Linked DNA regions of Homo sapiens: regions 1 and 2 are each linked to region 3. Evidence: fine-mapped expression QTL. A gene starts in region 3. Each other region holds a variant in brackets. All regions are shown on one strand. Distances are between the middles of the regions.

Region 1 (4,147 bases), 150 kb before region 3:
CCTGACACCTCCACCAACACCCCTGTCTTCAGAGGTTCAAATCTTGGCTCTACCACTTACAGACCACGGGACCTTGGGCAGATGGCGGCCTTGCTTCATGCCTCAGTTTCCCTATCTGTAAAATGCGGACAGTCATATGACTGTGGCTGTCACTAAGTGCTGTTTGCCCCAGAGACCTTCCCCCCAATCCCTCACTCCCTTCCAGAGCAGGGCTGGGGTCTCCTCTTTGCACCACTGGGTGGGGGGCGCCCTCTACCGCCTACCCACAGCTTTGAAAAGCCCTGAAGAACCAGAGTCTCCCTCCCTCAATGGGAGAGGCAACTCCTGCTTCTCTCGCTCTAAAAAGGAAATTCTGGGCCGGTGCGGTGGCTCATGCCTGTAATCCCAGCACTTTGGGAGGCCAAGGTGGGTGGATCACCTGAGGCCAGGAGTTCGAGACCAGCCTGGCCAACATGGTGAAACCCCGTCTCTACTAAAAATACAAAAGTTAGCCGGGCATGGTGGCGTGCACTTGCAATCTCAGTTACTCGGGAGGCTGGGGCAGGAGAATCGCTTGAACCTGGGGGACAGAGGTTGCAATGAGCCGAGATCACGCCACTGCACTCCAGCCTGGGCAACAGAGTGATACTCTGTCTCAAAATAAATAAATAAATAAATTAATAAAATAAATAAATTAAAAAAAGGAATTCCAGCCAGGTGTGGTGGCTCACACCTGTAATCCTAAGACTTTGGGAGGCCAAGGTAGGTAAATCAGTTGAGGTCGGGAGTTCAAGACCAGCCTGGCCAACATGGTGAAACCCCGTCTCTACTAAAAATACAAAAAAAAAAAAAAAAAAATTAGCCAGGGATGGTGGCACATGCCTGTAATCCCAGCTACTAGGGAGGCTGAGGCAGGAGAATTGCTTGAACCTGGGAGCTGAGGTTGCAGTGAGCCAAGATAGTGCCACTGCACTCCAGCCTGGACAACAGAGCGAGACTCTGTCACAGAAAAAAAAAAAAAAAGGGAATTCCTTGGCCTTTGCCCTTTGCCCTCTGACCTCCAGCCTCAGGTCTGGGGCAGCCAGTATGCAGTCTCCCAGCCAGTGGCCGAAAGGAGCAGGGTGACGGTCCTGGCAGCCCAGGGACACATCTGGATGGAGGAACTGAGGCCAGAGCTGGCTGGACACTGGCTCAGGGTCGCATGATGGAGCAGCCTAGGGTACGGGGGCCCTTCCTTGGGGAGGAAACCCTGGGGTCAGGGATGGGACCCCTCTGCCACTGGAGGTAGGGAGCAGGCAGCTGGTGCCCAAGGTGGGTGGGTAACGACAGGAAGTCGGTTACTGAGGAGGCAGTTGTTGGCACTTTGATTTCCTGCTGTGCCGCAGGTTATGTAAAGGGCTGGGAGTGGCCGGGCACCCCAACACCCCGCCCACCCTGTGCCACCCTGGGGCTTGTCGTACAGAGAAGGGAAGGAGAGGCTCAGAGTGGGATGTTTGGGAGCTTGCAGCCATCAGGCAGGAACGTGAGCCTGGGCCCCTTGGGACCTGGCACCATGACCTCAGTTCTCTGTCCCCTGCCCCCAGCCTCCCTCCACTGGGCTCCAGGGAGGTGTAGGGTGAGAGGTTCCCAGCTGATTTCTCAGCTCCCAGCCCTGCCTCTGACTTGCTTTGGGAACATCAACTTCAGTTTCCCATGTGTGCAATGGGCCTGGATTCTTTCTTTACTTTTTTTTTTAATTTTAATTTTTTTTTTTTTTTTGAGACTGAGTCTCACTTTGTCGCCCAGGCTGGAGTGCAGTGGTGCGATGTCAGCTCACTGCAACCTCTGCCTCCCGGGTTCAAGCAATTCTCCTGTCTCAGCCTCCCGAGTAGCTGGGACTACAGGTGCACGCCACCACACCCAGCTAATTTTTGTATTTTTAGTAGAGACGGGGTTTCACCATAGTGGTCAGGCTGGTCTCGAACTCCTGACCTTAGGTGATCCACCTGCCTCGGCCTCCCAAAGTGCTGGGATTACAGGCGTGAGCCACTGCAACTGGCCATTTCTTTACTTATTTCTGTTGCTGTTATTTTCTTTTAGTTAGCAGATACTTTCATGTTAATATACGTGAGGGCCCGTTCTAAAATGCATAGCTAGATGTGGTGGCTCATGCCTGTAATCACAGCACTTTGGGAGGCCGAGGCAGGTGGATCA[C/T]GTGAGCCCAGGAGTTCCAGACCAGCTTGGGCAATATGGGAAAAGCCCATCTCTACAAAAAAAAAGTAATATAAATTAAGAATAAATGCATTATAAGGATTAACACGATTAATCCTCTTGGGGGGTCTGACTGCTATGATGATCCCCACTTTACAGATGGAGAAACTGAGGCACAGAGCAACCAAGCAGCACAGGGTGGCAGAGGTGGTAAAGGAGGGGGTCAGGATGGGAACCCAGGCCCCTCTGTGGGTGGACTGCCCTGATGGTGGGGAGGTTCGTGTTGGCCTCCCCAGGACACAGATGGAAATACTGGGTCTTGGTGAGGGCCAGGGCCAGGCTCGGGGTCAGCGGTGGGTGAGCACAAAGCCAGACACCCCTGGTTGCCCTCTCTGGGTGATGGTGCCCAGTGTTCCACATCAGAGCACCCACCAGGCATCGTGGACATCTCGGAGGCCCAATTGGCCACCACAGTCACGGTGCTCCAGGGCCAGTCTGAGGGCGAAACTGTTCCCTGGGTGTCTGTAGTGTGGGCTGGGAGCAGGCAGCGGCTCTCACCCGGCATCCACCATGGGCCATGCTCACTCCTTGCATGGGCGTGTTCTCAACAACCTGGGGGTTGGGACCACAGGGATCCCATTTTTTTGGAAGAGGAAGCTGAGTGCCAAGTGGAGAGGCCACATCCTAGGGGCCCAGCAGAGTCCGAGCCTGACTCAGTGCCCTTGGCCTTGGCCTCTCAGACTCACTCCACTGGCCAAGCCTGTCCAGCCCCACACCCCTGCCACCGGCAGGACTTGGTGTGTGTGACTGGGGGAGGAGCGGGCCTGGGTGGCTGGGAAACCAGGTAGGGGTATGACCAGAGTGGGGGGTGCTGGGTATGCAGCCCCCTCCCTCCTGGAAGAGGCCTAGCCCGGAGCACCCCACCCCCAGCCCTGTTGGCAGAGCGATTAAAGAGAGAAGGATGAGGGAAAAAGCCTGAAAGAATTAAACAAACAAAGGGAGAGGTCGGTTTATATAATCTCTGGTACAACGTGTCCTCTTGAGCCAGGATTAGGCCGTGGCGTTTCCCAGGCAGCCGTGGGGGCGGGTGGCAGACGCCCTGCTCCCTCCTTGCTCTGTGCCACTGCCTGCCCTGGCTGCCTCCCTCCCCGTGGGGGCCCTTCTGTATCCCCAGGTTGGGGAAGCTCCAAGGGGGGGCCAGGTCCAGCTGGGAGGATGCCAGCTCCCCCTGGGAGGTGGGGGCAGGTCCGGGAATCGTGCCATCTGGCAGATCCACTCCCAGGCCTGCCCTGCACAACCAGCTCACAATCTTGGACAGACCTGAGACCTTGGTTTCTCTTCTGGGAAATGATTTTGTGGGGCTATAGGTATTTGGAGCCTGGTACACAGTTGGTGCTAAATAATTGCATACCTCCAATAACTGTGGAAGCTGGAATCAGGGCTATAATCACGATCAATTGGGTATCAACAGTAACAGTCACAACAATAATAAGATCTAACGATAGTTTCATTTCTCTTTATAGCATTCATCCTTCTTGAACGTTAACATTTTAATTCACGGTTTGTGTCTCTCCCTGGAGTCCCAAACCCTCGAGAAGGACAGGTGTCAGTGTCACTTTTGTTTGCTGCTGGATCTCCTGTGTCTAGGACAGAGCTAGACCCGCAGCGGGTACCTTGAACATATTTCGAGAACTTAGGGCTGAATCGTTCATGTGTATTGAGTGCCCTCTCAGGACCACGCTTTGCACTCAGCACAACCATATTGCATTTGAGCATTGCGAAACCGGCCAGGAGGGTGCTTCATTATTCCCATTTTTCCAGAGGGGGAAACTGAGGCCCAGAGAAAAGGAGTGACCTGCTCAGTCACCTGCAAAAAAAGTGACAGAGCTGAAATTCAAATGCAGCCCTCCTCGCTGTCAAAGTCTCCTTCTGGGCCAAGTTGCTGACTTGCTCTTCCCAGGCATGGGCGTCTCTGAGA
Region 2 (4,147 bases), 41 kb before region 3:
GGGCGCGCTCAGCTTGAAGCCACACAGCACCCCGGCAGGAGTCCTTCCCAGGCGCGCGCCCGCGTACACACACACACACACACACACACACACACACACACACACGCCGGCCAACCCTGCCAGCCACCCCCAGCCCCCTGCCGCTGTCCCCGCCACCACCAGGGGTGCCAACTGCTCCCGCGGTCCCCCCGCCAGGCCGCCCAGCCCGCCTTCTCCCTGGAGCTGGTGCGTCACACGCGGAATCTCACGCCTCAGAGCTCAGCCTGCTACAGCCTCCTCCTCCCCCCCTCCCGAGTCGAGCCGGCAGCTGGTGCTCCCATGGAAACCGCGGGCCCCCACCCGGGCCCCCGCCGGGCCCCCCCCCCACCTGCACCGTCCCCCAGCGCAACCTCCGCTTTAAGACAAATATTGTCATTAACATGCAAATGTATATGCGATTACCATAAACGGGGGGCCCAGTGGCAGCGGCGGACCAGTACCACCGTGGGCACCTTCCCCTGGCAGGGTGGGCACCCAGGCAGCCACCATCCATAGACAGGGGCAGCCACAGCTCCAGAGGTGCCTGCCTTGGAGGGAGGGTCCCCGGGGCAGGAACTGCAGGGGGGCCAGCGGGAGCCCCAATCCCAGCCTCCAGTTCTTGGCCTGAGCCCCTGGCCTGGGGTGGGGGTCCTTCCTGGGGGAGGTCCCCGCTCTCTGGATGCGGAGTTCTGGCAGGAGCAGGCTTGTGGTCTTCCTGTGGGCCTGCATCTCTCTGCAGCCCCCTCCCTGTCTGTGTTTCTCTGTCTCTGTCTCTCTGTGGGTCTCTCTGTCTCTCTTTCCCTGCGTGTCTCTCTCTCTCTCTCTGTGTCCTCATCTCTCTCTCTCTCTCTCTCTTAAAAACAAACCCAGCGCCCCAGGGCCTGCCCTCTTTCGGAAGACCACCTCGACGCATCCCTCTCCCCCTACCCCTGCCCCGCTCCTGGATGAGGCCTCCTGCCTTTCTCTGAGTCTCAGCACGGCCTCTAGGAATCTGGCTGCCCCCACGCCACCTTCGGCCAGGCCAGCTGTGGCTGTCAGGTGTCACGGGCCCCTCCATCCCCAGCACCATCTCTGGGGGCCTCACTCTTGGCTTTGGGGAACCTGTCACCCCTATGTCACACAGATACAGGCACAGCTGCTTCTCCTGGCCTGGGAGGAAGGCAGGGGGGGTAATGGGGGCCTAGCTCCGGTAAATGTGGGACCCAGGGTATGTCTCTCAAGCCCTCAGTTTCCCAGAAATGCGCTGTCACTCGGAGCCCACCTCCATGGCGATGGGTTCCATGGGGAAATCAAACAAGTCCCTGCAGCCTGGACACCAAGGAAGGGCTAGAGGTGGTACCAGCTGACCCCCTCCGGGCTTGTACCAGGAGCCGGGTGCACCTCCAGGGTGTTCTCATCCCACCCCACTCTACTCCTTACAGATCTCCTGTGCCCAGTCTCATGGGCCCCGCCGGGCATCCAGGGAAAGGGATTTCTCTCCAGGCCTGGGGTCCATATCCCCAAGGCCCTGCCACTCTGAACAGGCACACTAAACCACGCCAGGGCTCCCAGAAACAGCCCTAATAAGGTCATGTTGGTGGCAGGTGTCTGAACTCACTCCTCTCCCCAAAAATCCTGACTTCCCATTCACCATTCCACCTCCCTTCAGCCAAGGCCCAGAGAGGGCCCAGAGAGGGGCAGTCACTAGCCAGAAGTCACACAGCTGAGCCCCAAACGCAAACCTGGATCACAGATGCTGATTCTGAAGACACCCCCCCACCCCTTCGTGCCAAGCACCTGCAGGCAAAGACCAGGTGAAGTCCAGCCAGGCCCCACGCAGGTGGGGATTCACTTCCCCGAGGGTACTGGACCCATTTTC[G/A]ACACGAGGTGAAGCCCCTGTATCTCACACACAGACGGACCTGGGACCCCTAAAAAGTGGAGGGTGATTGCCGGCTGTCGTGCACACGGCTTCTCAATTCTCACCCTCCAAGGAAAGCCCGCAAATGGGAAATACCCCCGAGGTACCCCAGGGACCCCAACATTCTCCAACCTGTAAAAAAAGAACTGGGGATGCGTCATGGTCCTGCTCTGTTGACAGCAGGGAAACTGAGGCTCAGGGCCAGGTGAAAACCCAGCCCCAGCCCCTCCTTCACCCCTCACTTCTCCCGTGCCCAGGTTTCCCAGAGATTTAAAAATAAGAAGGAAAAAAAAAAAAAGATGAAGAAGAGTCACCAGGATGCTCCAGTCCCTGCACCCCCACCTGTCTCTCCGACCTAGAGCTCAACCAGCGGCCTTTCAATGCAACCGTTTGGGGGGCCATGTGGACTCCCCCATTCCCACGGGAATCTTTCTAGAAATGGGTGCTTTGGGTGTACCCAGGGGTGGGGGCGTGTGGGAAAAGCCCACCTATCACCTCTGGACTCCAGATATTGACTTATGGGGGCCGCATGGGAGCCCCTCTGCCCTCCTAGGCCACATGGAGGAGTTAGATTTTTCAGGCCCAATTTTGTGTGTGTGTGTGTGTGTGTGTGTGTGTGTGTGTGATGGTTGGTTTTGAAAAGAGATGGGGAATGGGGAGGGGTTTCTTTCCTCCCTCAAGATAACCAGCTGGAGGGTCTAGCTGAAGTGACAGGCCTGGGCCCCATCTCACCAGACCCTCCCTAGGGCCTTCTTGAACCCCTTCATTCATTCATTCATTCATTCATTCATTCATTCAATTCATTCATTCAATAAACATGCATTCATGCTTACCGGGCACGCAGCGCTGGGGAAAAAGTGGGTGTAAAATAGGTCATGGGCCCCGGTCCTTCCCCAAGGCCTCTCCAGGGTCTTCCTGGAGGATGGGAGGGGGAGGGCCGGGGGTGTCCAGCACAAGGCCTTTGAAGTGGCACCCCCAGTCCCCAACACCTGACCGGAAGGCTGTCAAAGCCACCCCAATTCAGACGCTGGGCCCATGATGGGAACCAAGGGCTGGGGATACAATTGCCGGACACCCCCACCCGGGATGCCATCGGAGGGAGAATCCAGTGGGAGGGAGGCAGACAGGCCTGAGGCCGCCCACGCCTCCCTCCTCCTCCCTGTCCACCCCAGAATTTGGGCTCTGCCCAGATGGACACGTCCAAGCTCATTGTCTTGGGCCTGAGACCCCAACACATTGCTAAGAGGCTCGGCCAGTTTCAACTTGAGCCCAAGGTGGAGGCGGGGGAGGGGGAGGGCAGAGAAATGGAGGAGAGAATGCTGATCCACGCGGAGGTGGTGGGGCCAGGGGGTGGGCAGCGACGGGAGCCTCTCCGCCACCCGAGGCAGGCGAGGCGGGCGCGTCCCCCCGAGCCGGGCGCCCCCAACCCGTCTTCCTTTGTAGTTACCGATTAGCCTGGGGTCCTGGGCATCCGTGTCCCCCGCGGCCGGACCTGCCCCGCCGGCCTGGCTTTGTGAAAATAACCAAAGCAATGGAGTCCGCAGGTGCAAACTTCCCCGACGGGGCCTGGGGAGGCTGAATGAATGGGGGTGGGGGGGCAGGGAGGGGTGCCGGCGTTCCCGAGGCTCCCCTGGCAAACGGGCAGGAAAGAGTGGGGTGAGGGAGGGAGGAAGGGGTGGGGGTCTGGGGGATGGAAGGGTGAGGGAGGGAGGGAGGGAGAGAGAGGGTGCTGTGGGGGGAAGGATGAGAGGTCGAGGGAGATGGGAGAGAAGAGAAAGGGAGAGAGAGAGGGAGAGAGAGAGGGAGAGAGAGAGGAGATGCCGGAAGGTGGGGAGGGAGGGAGAGGGGGCGGAGGAGGGGAGGGGGCCCGCTCGGATCTGTCAGCTGCACCCCCAGAGAGGGGAGGAGGGGTGGGTGGGAGGGAGGGGGTAAGAACCGATGCTCCGGCAGAGGCAGGCAGAGGAGGGAGGTGAGCAGAGGAGGGATGGTGATGGGGGAGAGAAGATGCCGGAAGGTGGGGTGGGAGGCGGAGGGAGGGGGAGAGGGGGGAGGGGGCCGGGCGCCCACCTTTGTGCATCCCCGTGTAGGGGTCTTTGAGCACCGTGAGCTCGTAGATGCGGCCGAACTGCTCGAAGAGCGGCTTGAGGTCCTTCTCGTCCAGGTGCCGCGGGATCTGGCCCACGAAGAGTTTGATGGCGTCCAGGTCCTTCATGCCGTCGGGCTGCCCCCCGG
Region 3 (4,126 bases):
ATGCATTCCCTGGGCGGACTTGCGGGGAGAGAAAGGGGGCCCACATCTGCCCAGGGACAGTGTAGGGAGCCGCCAACATGCATTCCCTGGGTGGGTTCTTGGGGAGAGAAAGGGGGCCCACACCTGCCCAGGGACAGTGTAGCAGCCACCAGATCACACCTGCCCGGGGGGCTGGAGGGAGGCCGGGTGAGCTGGAGGACCAGGCAGGAGATGCCAAGAGTGTGAACAGGGTATCTCGAGCTCTAGGAGTGGGGTCTTTGGGGTGCAGACTGCCCTGGAAACCCCACGGAAGCCGCTATGAGAGCCGCAGGCACGCGTGGCTACTTGCGTTTATTACCCTCAAGCAGCGCTGAAAATCCTGCCCCCCGGTTGCACAGGCCACGCTTTGGGGGCTCGGCAGCCTCCTGTGGCTGCTGGCTCCTGTGCCAGGCAGCAAAGATGGAGGCGATTCTACAGGATGGTGCCCGTCAGGACCCTTCCCCCGGGAAAATCCCAAGCAGCACGGAAAACGCGGTCACTGCATGAGGAGCCTCTGGCCTTCCACTCCCACCCTCCAGAGCCTGGGCCTTGGGTTTATACACCACCACTGTGGCCCCAGGGCGCTTCCCCTGGACACTGTGGACATTAGGGCCGGATCGTTCTCTGGGGTGGGGCCGTCCTGGGCACTACAGGGAATTGAGCAGCGTCCCTGGCCTCCACCCACTCCATGCCAGGAGCACCCGTGGTCGTGACAACCACAGATGTCCCCAGACATCACCCAGCGTCCCCTCGGTTGACAACAATGGCTCTAAGTAAAAAAATCGTAACTCTGGGGCAAAATGGGACCTGAGGCCAAAGTCTGGTTCCATCTCCAGAGATGGGCTCCCCAAGGGCTGGCAGAAGCTGGGGGTCCCCGCGCCTCAGGTTGAGCCTGAGATGTGACGAGAGGGACCAATCCAAGAGAATCCGGGCTGGGAACTAAGGGGGCCAGGAGAACAAGCGGACGGGACTCCTTCACAGGGAAGGCCAGGCCTTGACTTCCAGGGACCTGAGGGGCCAGGCTGAAAAGAAGAAAAACCAGGGACCAGGTTCTGGAATGTCAGGGACAGCTATAGCCAGGCAAAGACAAGGGGATGTGGAATGGTCTAGACACTGGGGTCAGGGCCACGACGGGAGGGGGCGAGGCTGTTGAGTGGGAGACTTGCAGAATGCAAGGGCAAGGGGGTGCGAATTTGGAAAGGGAAGAGGAAATCCTGGAAAGATGGAACAAGTGGGGTTCTGGGAAGTGGGTGTGAGGAGGCTGAGCTGAGGGCGTGGGTATGCATCAAAGGCGGGACAGAAAGGGGGTCAAAGGGAACCCCAGGCGAGTGGACTGAACTGGGGACGTGGGAGGAGACCAGGGAAGCTGGGCTAGCAGATTCTGAAACATGACTCACGAACTGGGACCAGAGAGCGTCAGGGGTCTGGGGACAAATGTGCCCTTGACGTGGGGGCCGGTGACTAGAGCGAGAAAATTCAGGGGAGTTGAATTTGGGCACTGGACAAAATGCACTTGGCACCCAGGGCCGTGGGAGGGGGTGGGGAATGCTGGACCACCGCGTCGGGTGGCTCAGCCTGGCAGAAATCAGTGCAGGGACCTTTAACTCCAAACGCAGTCAGCTAAAGGCGAGAGGCCTGGGAACACGGACGTGACCCAGTGAATCCAGAGACCAACCAGATGGTCTCCAGAACAGGACCCTGGGAGCTGGAGGTCAGGACGGGAGCGTCTGCTCAAGTGAGCCCGGACCAGGAAGCCTAAGGGGCGGAGGGGGCCCAGGAGGGAGAAACTCGGCAAGGCAGGCAGACGCCGGCCCAGCTGGGGACAGGAGAGAGGGGACTTAGGGCTCCAGGGACGCGGGACGCTTGGCCCGGCCATGGGTTCCGGGGCAGGGAGACCTAGGCAGGGGCCGGGGGCTGTGGGAGCGAGCGCGGGGGGTCCCTGGGCGCTAGGCAAGGAGAGCAGGGATTCCAGGGCGCCCGGGGGTCCAGGGCGGCAGGGCTCTGCCTCGCCTGGGGCCTGAGCATGGGTCGGGCAGCCCAGGCCGGAGCTAGGGATCGGCCTGGGGATCGCCGGGCCGGAGTGGCGTGGCCGGGGAGCCCGGGGAGCCCCGAGGGTGGGCCGGGGACACGCACCGTAGGGCTGGCCCTGCAGGTCGTACTGCTGCATGCGGTACACGGTGAACTCGTGCGCGGCGTCGGCGGCAGGCAGCGGCGGCGCCACCAGCAGCAGCACAGCGGGCAGGAAGACGATGAAGCCGAGCGGCAGACAAGACGCCTTCAGCATGTTCTCCAGCACCTCGCCCGCTTCCTCCAGCATCCTGGCCGGCGGCGGGGCCGCGCGGGGCGGCAGCTGGGACGGGACGGCGGCGGCGGCGGCTCCCGCGGACTCACCTCGGCATGGGTAGCCGCCGGGGTCCTGCGGGCGCCGCGCGGGGCAGCCCGCACTCGCCCTGAGGTCCTGTGGGCACCGCGGCGAACCGCCCCGCCAGCCGCGCTGCCTGTCGGGAATTGTAGTCCGTCCGTCCGGCGCTCGCGGAGCCCTGTGGGAGTTGTAGGCCCACTCTGGAACTCCCGGAAGGTGCGGCAGGCTGTTCGGCTAATACCGTTGAGGTTTCACATAAACTCCAAGTCATAAAATGCAATAAAATGCTTTAAAAAACTATTTCGCGATATCACTTTCTTAACCTTGTCTTTGGCGTTGGGGGAGCTAGGGTGAGGGGCGAAAGGTGGGGACAGGACGTGACCTTGCGACCTGGAAGGAAGTTGGGGATAAAGAGAAAAGGAAGTGCCTGCCTGGCGCGCTAGGTCTTCTGGGAGTTGTAGTCCCGTCAAACACACAAAGGGTCACGGGAACTGTAGTCGTCCTGGCAGAAATTGCTGAGAAAAACAAAAATCACTTAAAACTCCCGAGGATGTAGATGTCAAACTCCACGAAGGCAAAAACTTTTGTCTGTTTTGTGCATATGATGTATCCCCGGCATCTAGCACAAGACCTGGCGCACGGCGGGTGGCCTATACCATTTTTGAATGAATGAATGAAAAATAGAAAGTCATGATAGTCAGTTCCTAAGGGAGGCCGCAGTGGGTTGTGGGACTTGTAGTCTGGAACCTGCGGTTTGTGCAGGGGTCGGTGGCAGGTATTTATATTTATCTTTATTCATATTTGGGGCATACTTATACTAAAAAAGTATTTGTTGTTCATCAGAAATTTAAAGTTAAAACCCAGTGTCTCAGGGCTGGAGGTACCTAAGGAACGTCCCTTTGTACAGATGGGGAGACTGAGCCCCAGGGTGCAGCAGACAGTAGCCCTGGCTCTCAGCACGTTATCATCCCAGGCTCCGTACAGCTGCCTAAGGAGTCAGGGCTTCCTTTCTGTCCCAAGTGAGAAGTGGCATTGGTGCCGATTAAGAGCCTGGGCTCAAATCCCAACTCCTCCATTTCCCAGCTGTGTGGCTTTGGGCAAGTCGCTTCACCTCTCAGAGTCTCAGTTTCCTCAGATATAATGATAAAGAATCAAGCACTCTCCCTGCCAGCAGCATGTGAGAATTCTGTTTGTTTGTTTGTTTGTTTGTTTGTTTTTGAGATGTAGTCTCTGTCACCTAGGCTGGAGTGCAGTGGCTTGATCTCAGCTCACCGCAACCTCCACCTCCTGGGTTCAAGCAATTCCTGTGTCTCAGCCTCCTGAGTAGCTGTAAATTACAGGCGTGAGCTACCGCGCCCGGCTAGAAAGGGAGTTTCTGAGTGTGCTGCTGGGTCACTGAGCACCTACTGTGTGCCAGCCGTGTGGTGGGTGCTGGGGACACAGCCGGGACCCCAGCAAAGCCACACTATCCACCGACACGGAGCTCGAAGTCCAAAGGAGGAGGTGGATTGTGTGACCAGGGGTGATGGGAGCTGGGATAGAGGACACAAAGGCAGCTGGGAGAAGCCCAGAGGAGGCCTAGGGAGGAGAGGAAATCAGAGGAGGCTTCCTGGAGGAGGTGACACTTAAGCTGAAACTCAAAAGATGAGCCAGAGCAGATGAGTGAAGAAAGAGGGAAAGTTGTGCCCAGTATAAAGCAGAGCTGTCATGCAGGGAACACAGGCAGCTGTGGGAGCCTAGAGGAGA

What was found. PIP is the estimated chance that this variant, and not a neighbour inherited with it, causes the effect.
Region 1: its variant is fine-mapped to the expression of NCLN in spinal cord (GTEx, PIP above 0.99).
Region 2: its variant is fine-mapped to the expression of NCLN in whole blood (INTERVAL, PIP 0.90).

The regions. Positions count from the first base shown.
Region 1 is chr19:3,335,973-3,340,119 of GRCh38, reverse strand. No RefSeq gene overlaps it. Among named protein-coding and RNA genes, the nearest start is that of NFIC, 29 kb to the left of the region's middle. The variant C/T (reference allele first, on the strand shown) is at 2,173.
Region 2 is chr19:3,224,834-3,228,980 of GRCh38, reverse strand. CELF5 (CUGBP Elav-like family member 5) reads right to left here. Exons shown (of 13, transcript NM_021938.4): 1 at 3,983-4,147. Among named protein-coding and RNA genes, the nearest start is that of CELF5, 2.2 kb to the right of the region's middle. RefSeq lists enhancers at 49-588, 589-1,129. The variant G/A (reference allele first, on the strand shown) is at 1,877.
Region 3 is chr19:3,184,240-3,188,365 of GRCh38, reverse strand. NCLN (nicalin) reads right to left here and starts at 2,436. Exons shown (of 15, transcript NM_020170.4): 1 at 2,152-2,436. The coding sequence starts at 2,335. RefSeq lists a silencer at 1,950-2,519 and enhancers at 3,030-3,169, 2,476-3,358.